Linked DNA regions of Homo sapiens: region 2 is linked to region 1. Evidence: fine-mapped expression QTL. Tissue or cell type: whole blood. Region 1 holds a variant in brackets; the other region holds the start of a gene. All regions are shown on one strand. Distances are from middle to middle.

Evidence for each region. PIP is the estimated chance that this variant, and not a neighbour inherited with it, causes the effect.
Region 2: it holds the start of SLC30A1, and the variant in region 1 is fine-mapped to the expression of SLC30A1 in whole blood (INTERVAL, PIP above 0.99).

What each region holds. Positions count from the first base shown.
Region 1 is chr1:211,606,542-211,609,296 of GRCh38, reverse strand. It overlaps LOC105372903 (a long non-coding RNA gene), which reads left to right. Exons shown (of 2, transcript XR_001738450.2): 2 at 2,064-2,755. Among named protein-coding and RNA genes, the nearest start is that of SLC30A1, 29 kb to the right of the region's middle. The variant A/C (reference allele first, on the strand shown) is at 1,598.
Region 2 is chr1:211,577,576-211,580,330 of GRCh38, reverse strand. It overlaps SLC30A1 (solute carrier family 30 member 1), which reads left to right and starts at 1,170. Exons shown (of 2, transcript NM_021194.3): 1 at 1,170-2,340. The coding sequence starts at 1,719. RefSeq lists silencers at 581-1,140, 1,381-1,690, 2,191-2,540 and enhancers at 997-1,496, 1,497-1,998, 1,971-2,080.

The sequences.
Region 1 (2,755 bases):
GGGCTTCAGTCAAGGCCAATCCAGAGTTCAAAGCCACACCAAGGACCTTGCATTTGTGTCTTTCCTCTCTTCTTCCGAAGGCTTCGTCCTGACTCCACCTCCCTGGCTTGAAGCCAATGTGCCAAATGACAAATTTGCCAAAAACATGATTTAAGGAATATGCTTTTTTAAAACAGTCAATAAACATATATATATATATATATATATATATTTTTTTTTTTTTTTTTTTTTTGAGATGGAGTCTTGCTCTGTTACCCAGGCTGGAGTGTAGTGGTACTAACTCGGCTCACTGCAACCTCCACCTCCTGGGTTCTAGTGATTCTCCTGCCTCAGCCTCCCAAGTAGCTGGGATTACAGGCACCCACCACCACACCTGGCTAATTTTTTTTGTATTTTTGGTAGAGAAGAGGTTTCACCATGTTGGCCAGGCTGCTCTCGAACTCGTGACCTCAAGTGATCCACCCGCCTCGGCCTTCCAAAGTGCTGGGATTACATGCGTGAGCCACTGCACCCAGCCTGAATATGCTTATATTTTCAAATTGATTCAGAAATTGGCTTTCAATGAATTGGCTTTCAGAAAATTGTTTTTAGGCCAATTGCCCTGTTTGCAGCTATTCTTGAGAACCACGATGGTTGGCAGCAGCTCCTTGGACTGTAAGCTTCTCCACTCATGTCCAGGAGAAGAAAGAGCCTCTATGCCCAGCCTCACCAGCACAAGTCCTGAGGTTTGCTCTGGTGGGTCAGCAGGGCTCACAAGTGGTCCCCCGAGCCAATGACTGTGGCCTGGAGAACATGCTGGCTGGCTTGGATCTAGCTCAGTGTCTTTTCTTCAGCCAGTAGCTAGGGCCAGGGTGATGGGGCTATGTTGGTGGGCTTAAGCCATTTGAGCCCCACTCCTAAGGCAGGGGGTGGGTAAAATCATACCCTGGGCATGTGGCTGGGGAACTCCCATTAGGAAAGGCCACGCAGGCCACAGATATGGAGAACCTAAGTAACAATGCCAGTGACAGTTGAAGACATTCCTGAATAACCAGCCAAAGTGTTTGGACTTTGTTCTACAGGCAGCCAGGTGACATTGGAAGGTTTTTAGATCTGGGAAGAAAGTTCTTCCTGGTGGTGTTTTAGGAAGATTAGTCTGACCATAGATTGGATGAAAGTAGAAAAAAGGCTGGCAAACCAGTGGGGTGATTAGAGAACCCAGGGGAGAGGCAATGAGGACTGAAACTAAGGAACTGGAATGAGAAACCAAAGAAAGGGAGGACAATAAAGTATTTTGAAAGAAGAAGTAGGTCGGGCACTGTAGCTCATGCCTGTAATCCCAGCACTTTGGGAGGCTGAGGCAGGAGGATCACCTGAGGTCAGGAGTTCAAGACCAGCCTAGCCAACATGGCGAAACCCCCTCTCTACTAAAAATACAAAAATTAGCTGAGCCTGGTGGCATGCGCCTGTAATCCCAGCTACTCGGGAGGCTAAGGCAGGAGAATCGAACCTGGGAGGCAGAGGTTGCAGTAAGCCAAGATGGTGCCATTGCATTCCAGCCTGGGCAGCAAAAGTGAAACTGTTTCTGTCTCAGAAAAAAAAAAAAAAAGCAAGCAAG[A/C]AAGAAAGAAGTACTAGGAGTTAGTGTCTTATTGGACATCAGGGAAGTGGGTGGACAGTGACAGAGGGAGTCTGACAGAGGGAGTCAAAAATGGCTCCAAGGTCTCTGACCTGGGTGAAATCATGGAACTTCTGCCTGTACCATTAATAACTCCTTTCTCTGAGAGCTGTCTCCTCACTCACAGGGAAGGTCCTCTGTCCTGTTCGTACTGGGTCCCCATTGTTTTTGCAGCCTGGCCCTCCCTCCCTTTCTGGGAATGGACCCTTCCCTCCTGGGAAGCATCCATTGCTCCCTCATCTCTCCACGGCTGTTGTGGAGGTCACTGTGTAAATGCACAGCCTTTGTCTAGGGACGCCGGACCCAAGATGGGTCAATCGGAACTCTTCCTCAGCTTGGGACTAAAGCAAAGAAAGATCTCTCTCTCTCTCTCTCTCTCTCTCTCTGTCTCTCTCAATCTCTCTCGGAGGCTGAAGATGTGATTGGGCCAGCTGGTGACCTGTTGCTGGCCTCATGCTTCCACATGAAGATGCCAGGCTGCAAAACGGAGAAGAAGGAAGCCCATGCAGAGATGGCTTCTGAGTGAGAGCTTAGGAGCAGCTGCCCGGGTGCCCGTAGGCGGTCAGATTTCTAGATGCACTTCCTGTTCTTGGGTTCCGCAAGACACCCTCTGGCTCTTTTGCATACATTTTAAGCAACTACTTCTGAAGTTGGGAAATCAGGAGTAGCCGCTGACTCTAAAGAGAAACTATATCAATTTGGAATGTATTTGCATTATCAGTGAGTTTACTGGAAGTATTAAAGCTGGACCATCACTTGGAGATGTTGTAAGGAAATGTGAACATTTGGCGAACAGACCTTTAAATAAAGAAGGAAGCCATGGGAGTGGCTGAGATCTCCCTGAGAGAAAGTGGAGAGATGTTCAGAGGTAACTTCGTTTAGAAACTTTTATTTAAAAATCACATTTAGAAACTAGAAGGTGTGGGGGGACCCAGTAAAGGAGACAGAAAGGGATTTACCAGAGAGTTGCGGGAGCTACGATTGTGGTGTCAAAGAACCAAAGGGAGGAGCAAATGCAAGATCTCAACCAATAAGGAAGTGTAAGCGACGAAGGGCAGGCCTTGGGGTGGGTCGACTCAGCAGCTCCACCATTTTACTGAG
Region 2 (2,755 bases), 29 kb after region 1:
AACTCATCTCCACCCACAACACAGTGCTTATGTATTCAGTCTAAAATAGCACAATTTATCAAGAGTATTCCATCGTAATTTTAAAATGTCGTGTTTATATTTTACCTCCACCTGGACAGAAACTCGTTCCTTTGTATTCTTACTGCCCCTCCACCTCCCCATAGCAACCAGCACAAGATTCCACCGTGTGTAGTCTATAAATAAATGTTAAATCATAGAGCCTTAGAATTTTGGAGTCAGACGGGGATCTTCAGAGTTGCATTTGTCCAGTCCTTTATAGATGGGGAAACAGGTCTAGAGAGATTAGGTGACTTGCTCAAAGCCACACAGCTGGCTATTGACAAGGCAAGGAGCAGAGCCCAGGTTTCTCCTGCCTGAAGTCTGTACCCTGAACTGTCCTTAGATAATCAGTGACAGACACCTGAGTTCACACAAGGTCTCCAGGGGTTGATGGTGATAGGAGAAACTGGCTTTCCCAAAACATGTACAAAGATTCGGTCCACGCCCCTAGCAGACCTTCGGGAGGACTAACTCCTCAGCTCGGCGTCCAGCAGAGTCCCAAGTTACAGTCGCACTTGTTTATGCGTCTGTCGGCCTCCTCCGACAGGACCGAGTACTCGAGGGCCCCGCGCTCAGGGGCTCCCCTCCGGCCCCTCCCCCGCCGCCGAGCTGTCACACAGCCGCCGCGCGGCCCGCCCCCACGTGGACTGGGCTCGGAGGATCAAAGTCTGTTTGCAGACTTTGCAGCCCGGCCCCCGCAGGTGTGCTGGGAGTTGCGATGGTCCGCAGGCCAGGACTCCGCCACACCCGAGGGGACCCGGCCAGCCCCTCCCCCTCCCGCTGCACGCGGCCCGCGCCCCCAATTCGCCCGCCGCTGCACCCGGCCACGGCCCCCCGGCCCACGCCCGGCTCCGGGAGGAAAAGGCCCCGCCCCTATCTGTTGGAGCCGCGACCCCGCCCCCTTCCCGCCCCTCCGAGGCTCCATCCAATAGTGAGCGTGGCTGGGCGGGACGCCGAGGCTGTCGTGAGGGGGTCCTGACCAATGGGGAAGCGTGCCGGGCCTGGTGGGCGGGGCGGCAAGGCCTTGTCACGCTCGGGTCCGTGTGAAAACGGGGGTTCCGAGTGCAAAGCAAAGTTTTTTTGTAAACCGTCTGCAAAGGCGGGGGGGCGAAGAAGGCGCCCGAGACCGGGCCGAGTGCAGCTGCCGTGGCCGCCGCCTCTCTAGCTCCTCAGCCATCCGCTCCTCAGTCCAGCCGCCGCAGAGGAGACCAGCAAGCAGAGCCCTCAGATGCTCGGAGCTTTCTCGGCGCGAAGCTGCCCGTCGCCCTCTCCTGCCGCCCTCGCCCGCCGCCCTCCTGCTCCTGCTCCGGCTGCGGCTCTTGGTACCCCGGCTCCGGGAGCCCAGCTCCCCGCCACCGCCGCCGCCTGGGTGTGGGGGCTGCTGAGGCTGAGCCGGGCCTCGGCGCCGGCTCTGAGGACGGACGCCTGAGGAGCTGCGCGGCGCGGCGCCGCCGGCTGGCGGAGAACGCCCACAGGCGCGGGGCTCGGCGGCTTGACCCGGGCTTGTCCCCGTGCGGCCGCGGGGGCCCCTCAGCGGTTTCCCGAACGGCCCGACTCGGGCGCTCCTCCGTGTCGCGGTCGCCGACCCTCCGCGTCCCGCCAACGCCGCCGCTGCACCAGTCTCCGGGCCGGGCTCGGCGGGCCCCGCAGCCGCAGCCATGGGGTGTTGGGGTCGGAACCGGGGCCGGCTGCTGTGCATGCTGGCGCTGACCTTCATGTTCATGGTGCTGGAGGTGGTGGTGAGCCGGGTGACCTCGTCGCTGGCGATGCTCTCCGACTCCTTCCACATGCTGTCGGACGTGCTGGCGCTGGTGGTGGCGCTGGTGGCCGAGCGCTTCGCCCGGCGGACCCACGCCACCCAGAAGAACACGTTCGGCTGGATCCGAGCCGAGGTAATGGGGGCTCTGGTGAACGCCATCTTCCTGACTGGCCTCTGTTTCGCCATCCTGCTGGAGGCCATCGAGCGCTTCATCGAGCCGCACGAGATGCAGCAGCCGCTGGTGGTCCTTGGGGTCGGCGTGGCCGGGCTGCTGGTCAACGTGCTGGGGCTCTGCCTCTTCCACCATCACAGCGGCTTCAGCCAGGACTCCGGCCACGGCCACTCGCACGGGGGTCACGGCCACGGCCACGGCCTCCCCAAGGGGCCTCGCGTTAAGAGCACCCGCCCCGGGAGCAGCGACATCAACGTGGCCCCGGGCGAGCAGGGTCCCGACCAGGAGGAGACCAACACCCTGGTGGCCAATACCAGCAACTCCAACGGGCTGAAATTGGACCCCGCAGGTGAGCCGGGAAAGTCGCTGCCGCAGGTGGTTGGGTTTGGGGTGCCCAGAGCCTCGCCTGGCCTTCGGCGGGGTGGCCCGCACGCCCCCTGCTGCCCGAGCGGGCCTGCGCCGCGCCGCCCCTGCCTGCTCCCTCCCCGTCCTGCACACGCCCCGCTGCTGCTCCAGGAAATCAGAACCCCCTCAGTCGGGTGCAAGGAGCCGGCGACGCGTCTGGCATATTTGTAGGTGGGGGCTGTGGGTCAGACCCTAAGAAAAAGGGTCAGGAGGTGATCATCATCCCGCTGCAGTCCACACCCGCACTTGGCTGTCTTTACAGGCTGCAGCAACTTTGCTGGAGACTTGTCTGGTTATGGTTATAACAGCGTCAGAAATGCTTCCCAATTCAATTCCTTGGCCCTCTTGGGAAACGGAGA